2 linked regions of the Homo sapiens genome follow. The protein of the gene in region 2 purifies or fractionates together with the protein of the main gene of each other region. This does not show direct contact. Each region holds a gene or a part of one and is shown on either strand. Other genes may lie near its edges.

What was found.
Region 1: the proteins of CDIN1 (region 2) and ZNF609 purify together in Homo sapiens (affinity purification with mass spectrometry; one large-scale study listed by BioGRID and IntAct). This does not show direct contact.

Annotation. Positions count from the first base shown.
Region 1 is NC_000015.10:64,498,578-64,502,077, reverse strand, and holds part of ZNF609 (zinc finger protein 609), read right to left. Parts: intron 2,786-3,500; 5' UTR 2,659-2,785; coding exon 1,912-2,658; intron 1-1,911. UniProt on the Homo sapiens protein: Transcription factor, which activates RAG1, and possibly RAG2, transcription. Through the regulation of RAG1/2 expression, may regulate thymocyte maturation.
Region 2 is NC_000015.10:36,582,626-36,586,125, forward strand, and holds part of CDIN1 (CDAN1-interacting nuclease 1), read left to right. Parts: intron 1-3,500. UniProt on the Homo sapiens protein: Plays a role in erythroid cell differentiation.

The sequences.
Region 1 (3,500 bases), about 28 Mb from region 2:
CCATTCTCAGAGTCTCCCTGGGAGGCAAAGCTTATATGGCAAAGCAACATTATTAAGGGACAAAACTCCCTGGCACCAGGATGTATTCTTAGCTGAACATACTGCATCTTTCAGCCCAATTATAATCTGAAGGGCAGCCACCCAATCAGTCCCTGCACCTCTATGTGAGAAAATGGGTTCCATTTGCTTCTCTGTTAGAGACAATCATGGACATTTACACTTAAATCCAACATAAAGCTAAGCAATATTAATCCTTTCATCCACAGACTATCACTGGGCTTAGAAGGTTGCAACATAAGTACTCTAAAATTTAGATAGGAGAATGAAGGTCATCCTCAGAAGTACTTTTTAGCACAGGAAGAATAATGATTATGAATATGGATATATGGCAAGAGTTTCTTGAAGCCAGATGTAGGGAACAGTCTAATGGGCCTGGAACAGAAGCAACAACTGCTAGTACTCCTAAGCCTCTTTAAAACAGTATTATCCATCTGTACCCGAGAGAAAATAGCAAATCACAGCCAGCACAGGATGAGCCAAGCTAGTAACCAGCTGGAACCTGACTCTGCTGAAGTGGACTATAGCATCTGCCACCTAAACACAGGCAGCCTCTCTGGCAGCTGCCACTGGTAAAAGGGAATGAGCCACTGTATTATTAGTGGAAGAAACTCACAGACCTGCTACTGGAGAAGCCCAGATGTTGCTAAGAGCTACAGATGTGCCAGAGGCAAAGACCAAAATACCGACAGCAAAGAAAGCATGAGCTACCACTGGAATACAGGCACTAAGAGGGCACCACCACCCAAACATACACATCCAGCCTTTATTTATTAACACTTACATATGGAAATAGGTATTCCCTGCTGCAGCTGATCTAATTACAGAGAAATCAATTTATACTGCATCTGCTGGGATCAGCTGAAAGCACAGGATGAGCAGAGCACAGAGCAGAAAATCAAGAGCCAATGAACAGCTCACCACAAGGCCACTGTTTTGCAGGAATAAGCTGCTGAAGTTTAATGCTGCCTGAGCTGACCCTAGACTCACACCCATTCTCCTCCAGCCCTGCAAGTTCCATTTCCTAAAGCATGAACTAAGATCATCTTCCCAGAGGAGGGACTCAGTTCTAACCCCTCCTGGGGCTGCAGGCACCTGTCCTTCCAAGTCAAGCAGAAGGCAAGGTATCATTACACTGTTGGCAGCTATTAAACCACGAGGAGACTTTGATTCCTAATAGTTGTGGGAGATACCTGGCATGAAGCTACACCTTTAATGGCCAATCTCTTCCTAGGCCAAACTGTCATAACCACAACAATAACTCATAAGATCTAAGTACCTCAAAGTACAATGAGTACCTCTTGCCCTCAAAATGTGCCCCTTCGCTCTTTGGTAGCCGGCAATAGAACACTTCGTAGATATGCCATGAAATTTAGCCCTTTGTTCTACCAGAGACCCAACAGCACCATTTATCCCATCAAGAACCGTACTCAATCTACATTATCACCAAAGGCGTATTGTTTATCAACTATTATGAGTCTGATGATGAAATGCCAGTCAAGCTGGGAAACAAATAAAGGTCTGATGCCAATCTCTACCAACAAGTGTCTGAGGTGGGCAAAGACAAGGTGGGAAGGTCTCAACTCAGACTACAGAAAGTTCATTCTACAAAGTAGCTGCCCCCAACAACAAATATCCTGTTCCACAATGTCCAGGCCTGCTGTAAATGAGTCTGTAGGGGAATCCTCTAATTTGGAAGAAAACCACATTATCATTACCAGCTGCTCTGACCTTGTAATTGGTCATTACCCACACACTAATGAGCCTCCCACAGAGTACACATAGTATTTGGCAGTTAGTCCAGGGCAGTTCTGACTGGCAGTCAGTGGGCAGCCATATCTGGCCACCTCTTACCTTTTCAGACTTGACTTTCTTTAGCAGGCGACACTCATTCTCCCCTTCCTCTGGCTCCGGTTTAGTTCCCAAAGGATTGAGCGCTGCCCCAGGCTCAATAGCTATACTCCCAAGTGGCTCCACAGCTCCTGTATCCACCCCTGCACTTCCATCATACTGACCACCCCGTCCTCCCAAGGGAACTGGCTGGAGGACCCCAGGATCCTTTTCTGAACAAGTCCCCACTCCTTCGCTTCTCTCCTTCTTGCTCTTAGATGAGCTGTTCTCCTTCTCCTTTTTGGAACCGGCTACACTGCGGGATGCCTTAGCCGCCTTCTCTGAGCCCTTGGGAGCAATAGCAGCAACCAGGCCTCCAGCATTGGCACCATCTCCTGAGCGCCCCTGCACCTCTTTCTTGCTAGCTGCCCCCTCACTTGGAGTGAACAGGGAAGTCCCTGGAGTGGGTTTGCTAGTGTCTTTGCCACTCTTACTCCTTTTGGATTTTGATTTGCCTTCCTTCCCTTGAGGACCTGGCACTGGGGTCACAAACTTGATGTTGTCTGGTAGTGTGGCCACAGCATTGGGAGCCGGTATCCCCACCTCCTTTGAGCCTGACATTTCCAGTTTCTGCTGGTCCTTTTCCAGATCGGCGTCCAGGTCAATGATGAGATTCCCTACTCCAATGTCCCATTCATCCCCACTGTCGTATGTCTCAACCGGGTTTGCATCCACTCCTTTCCCTCCGGAGGCTCCACTGCTCAAGGACATCTTAGAGTCAACGTCCCACCTCAAGATTCAAGGCTCTTCCTTGCCCCCAGCTTTCCTATTTTCAGCTTCAGCTATGTTCTCAGACCTGCCACATTGGTCAGTACATGCCCAGTGGACAACATCATTGCTGGAAAAAGAAAATTTAAAAAGCTGTTAAAAGAAACAATACAGGCAAGAGACGCCTGAAATAAACTCCCACACAAAAACAGACCCTTCCTATGGGGCTATCATATCACAACAGACATGACAAACAGGTTCAATTGTATTTCTAACCAAGTTACATTGGACCTAAGGAAAAATCAATTCCCACTCCATCTCCCTAGGGGAAAGTACAGTATTTCCAATTGCCCAGAGATTCCATGGTAAGTCTTAACTAGGAGTCCTCTAGAGTTAATTTCCCACTCCTAAGAGACCTATTTCTACTACCACTGTCAGCTGGCAACCCTTCCTCAATCAATACAGGTCCTGGCATATCACAGATGCAAGCTCTAGCACAACTTTACTTATACCCCCATTTCTCCTTGCTTTTTCTTACATTATCAGAGACGCAGAACATGATCTAGCAAAAGCTTTAAAAACTCTCTAACAGGGTCTATCTCTAGTACAAATAGTATAGATTCCTCCTACTATTGGGAAGGAAAAGTCTTATGGTTAAGAATGAAAGAGAAAAACAAGCAGAACTGGGGAAAATGCAACTTCAGGACAGGGGGCTAAGACTTGAACTAGAGGAGACAATCTCAGAGGGGACTCAACCAATCAGCTTAAGTTCAGAGAAGCTGAAACAGCCTTCTAAAACTCCAGGTTTCAAATTATTATCTCAATAGCAGGATTCAAAGTGGCCT
Region 2 (3,500 bases):
TGTTGACCCTGTAGACCTGTGAGAGGGTCTCAGGGACTCCAAGTCCACAGCCACACTTAGACAATCACTAGCTAATTCAAATCAAAGCATAATTATGTTTTCAAGGATTTTGATGTATACTGACAAATTTAAAAAAATTGTACTAGTCCTTTTACTAGCAGAGCGTGAGAGTCTCTGTCTCTGCAACTTTTCCAGTATTGAGAAGAGTCATTATTTAATCTTTAATATGTTCGATCAAGAATGACATCTTGTAGTTAGCATTTTAAAAATTATTATAGGTTGTACCTTTTTCCAAATTTTTTTGACCACTTAATTTTCCTTTGAATTACCTGTTTGGTATCCTTTGCCTAATTTTCTGTTGGCATGTCTGTTGTTATTGTTTATTGATTTATTACTTATTGATCTGCATATGTTCAGGATGCTGGTCCTATATATGTCATATTTGTTGCATAAATTTTCTCAGTTGTTTGATTTTAAATATTGTTCTGCTTTTGATATGGTTAACTTTTAAATGTATGCTTTTTTTTTCTGACATTTTTGCCTTTATACTTAGGAAGTTCTTTTCTGTCCTAATATATGAAAGAAAAAAATATTTCACCTAAATTTTCTTTTAGATTCTTTATGGCTTTGTTTTTTATTCTTAATTTTTAAATCTTTCTGGCTGAAATTTATTTTAGTAAATGCTGAGAGGTGAAGATGTAGCTTAATTTTTTCTCCAGCTTAATTTTTCCTCTTACTGTGACTTCTGGGGTAGCCTCACTTCTTCATGGCTTGTTTTGACTGAAGTTACAAAATTATGTTTTTTCAAGTCACTGTGTTTTACGTGGTCTCAGAATCCTTCACTTTAAAATGAAGGAGTAGGACTTTGTGATCTGTAATATCTTACAACTCCAAAATTCACCCTCATTCTATTTTCGTTTCTACAGTTTTACCATACAGTAAGTCATCATTTAATGTCTTCGGTAGGGCTTTGGAGACTGCAACTTTAAGTGAAACAATGTATAATGAGAGCAATTTTACCATATGCTAATTGTTATAAACAAGAATTAAGTTCCTATAGCATATTTCTGGTCATAATAACATCACCAAACTTCTAAATAAAGACCCAAGGCTGGGCACTGTGGCTCAAGCCTGTAATCCCGGCACTTTGGGAGGCTGAGGCGGGCAGATCACGAGGTCAGGAGATCGAGACCATCCTGGCTAACACAGTGAAACCCCGTCTCTACTAAAAATACAGAAAATTAGCTGGGCACGGTGGCGGGCGCCTGTAGTCCCAGCTACTCAGGAGACTGAGGCAGGAGAATGGCATGAACCTGGGAGGCAGAGCTTGCAGTGAGCTGAGATGGCGCCACTGCACTCCAGCCTGGGTGACAGAGCAACACTCCGTCTCAAAAAAACCATAAAAAATAAAATAAAGACCCAAAACACATCTAATATTAAACATTGAAATTAATGTGAGCCTAAACAAGTAAGATAATTATTTACCCAATTTTTGGTGAATCAGTGAGTGATGGTGGTCATAGTGGTGGTGGATTAAATCTAAGAGTATGTGTTTGCAAAGTGAAATTTGTGAGAAGCACCTCTTACCACCATGTATTCAAAAGCAAACAATAGCCTGTTCAACAGAGCGAGACCCTGTCTCTTCAAAAAAATTTAAAAATTAGCCAGGTGTGGTGGTACATGCTTGTAGTTCCAGCAACTCAGGATGCTAAGGTGAGAAGATTGCTTAAGCCTGGGAGTTTGAGGCTGCAGTGAGTTAGGAACGTGCCACTGCAGTCCAGCCTGAGCCACAACAGTTAGACTCTGTCTCTAAAAACAAAAAACAAAAAGCAAACAATAACAAATGTGGTGAGCTTGCTGAGCACTTGTGTACTGCATCTTTATTGTCATGCGTTTGTATGATTATCATAGATTTATGAATTTTTATTTTACAGTAATTTGTATTCATTCATTTATTCACTTATTCATTCATTTATTTACCAACCCGCTTATTCCAGTTTAGGATTCTGAGTGGCCTCTGGCAGCTCAGGCTGCAAGGTATGAAGCCATCCCAGCACGGGACACGCTCACACACACTCCCATACTCACTCACACTGGGGCTATTTAGACATGCCAGTTCTGCAGACACGTACATCATTGAGATGTGGAAGGAAACCAGAGTACTGGGAGAAAGTTCACGCAGACGTCAGGAGAACATGCAAACTCCACACAGACAGTGGCCCCAGCCAGGAAACAATTTTTAAAAATACTCATCAACTTTATAACAAAATAATGTTGAACAAAATAACGTTATTTGAAGACTTTCTGTAATGGGCCCTTTGGCACCTGAAACATAGGACATACTACATTTGAAGTACTTGCTGAGGACATATTTATTGATTGACATTTTTTAATCTTTCTTGTGGACATTCTTAGAAGCCCCTGGTCCAATCAGCTGTTACTTATAAGGTTATATTTTACATTATAATTTCCTGCCCAAACACTACATATATATTTGATTATTTGTTACTTTTGGGAGAGTTTTTGGGATAATTTTAAGCTTGCAGAAAAGTTGCAGAAATATTACAGAGAATTCTCATATACCCTTCACCCAGCTTCTCTTAATGTTAACATTACCATGGTACGATTGTCAAAATCAGTAAGTTAATTTTAATGCAATATCATTAATCTACAGACACATTTTTTGAACTTTGCTAGTTTTTTCACTGATGTCCCTTTTCTAGGATCACACGTTGGATTTAATTGTAATGTCTTAAGTCATTTCCAATCTGTGACAGTTTCTTACTATTTCTTTGTCTTTTATGATTTTGACACTTTTGAAGAGTACTGGTCAATTTTATAGAATGTCCTTTCCTTTGTGTTTGATGTTTATTTTCTCATGGTTAGATTGAGGGTAAACACTTTTGGCAAGAGTACCCTGGAAGTGATGGTGTGGCCTACTTAGTGCATTACATCAGGGTCTGTGACTTCATATGTCTTATTATTGGAGACGTTAACCTTATTCACTTGATTAAGGTGGTGTCTGCCTTGGTTTGTGCTCAGGAGCTGGTAGTTCTAATGTTACTTTTATTATTATTATTATTTTTAAATTCTGAAGCTCTTTAATAGCTTTATAATCAACAAATAAAACTAAAGGTGTTTTATAATAGGAAAATAATTTTGTGATATATGACAATGGCATTGCTTCATAAGGACAAGAAGAAAAATTGGAAGTGTACAGTAGAACTAGTATGTTTTACTATAGAGTCTTACATATGTATTACTTGAGAGTGGAAATATAACCATAACTTGCTAACCTGTACTGTGACTCACAAAACAGGCTCTACCTGACCAAACTACAATTACTGACTAAACCTGAACTCTTTTATCATGAGCTCATTCAGCCTTATGTGCTCAACCCATACTCATAAACTCTGTTCCAGAAACTGCCTAGTTGACAAAGTCTGACCAACATCTAGCAGGACCACCTCATGACTAGTTCCGGCTCCTAGAACCTTCGA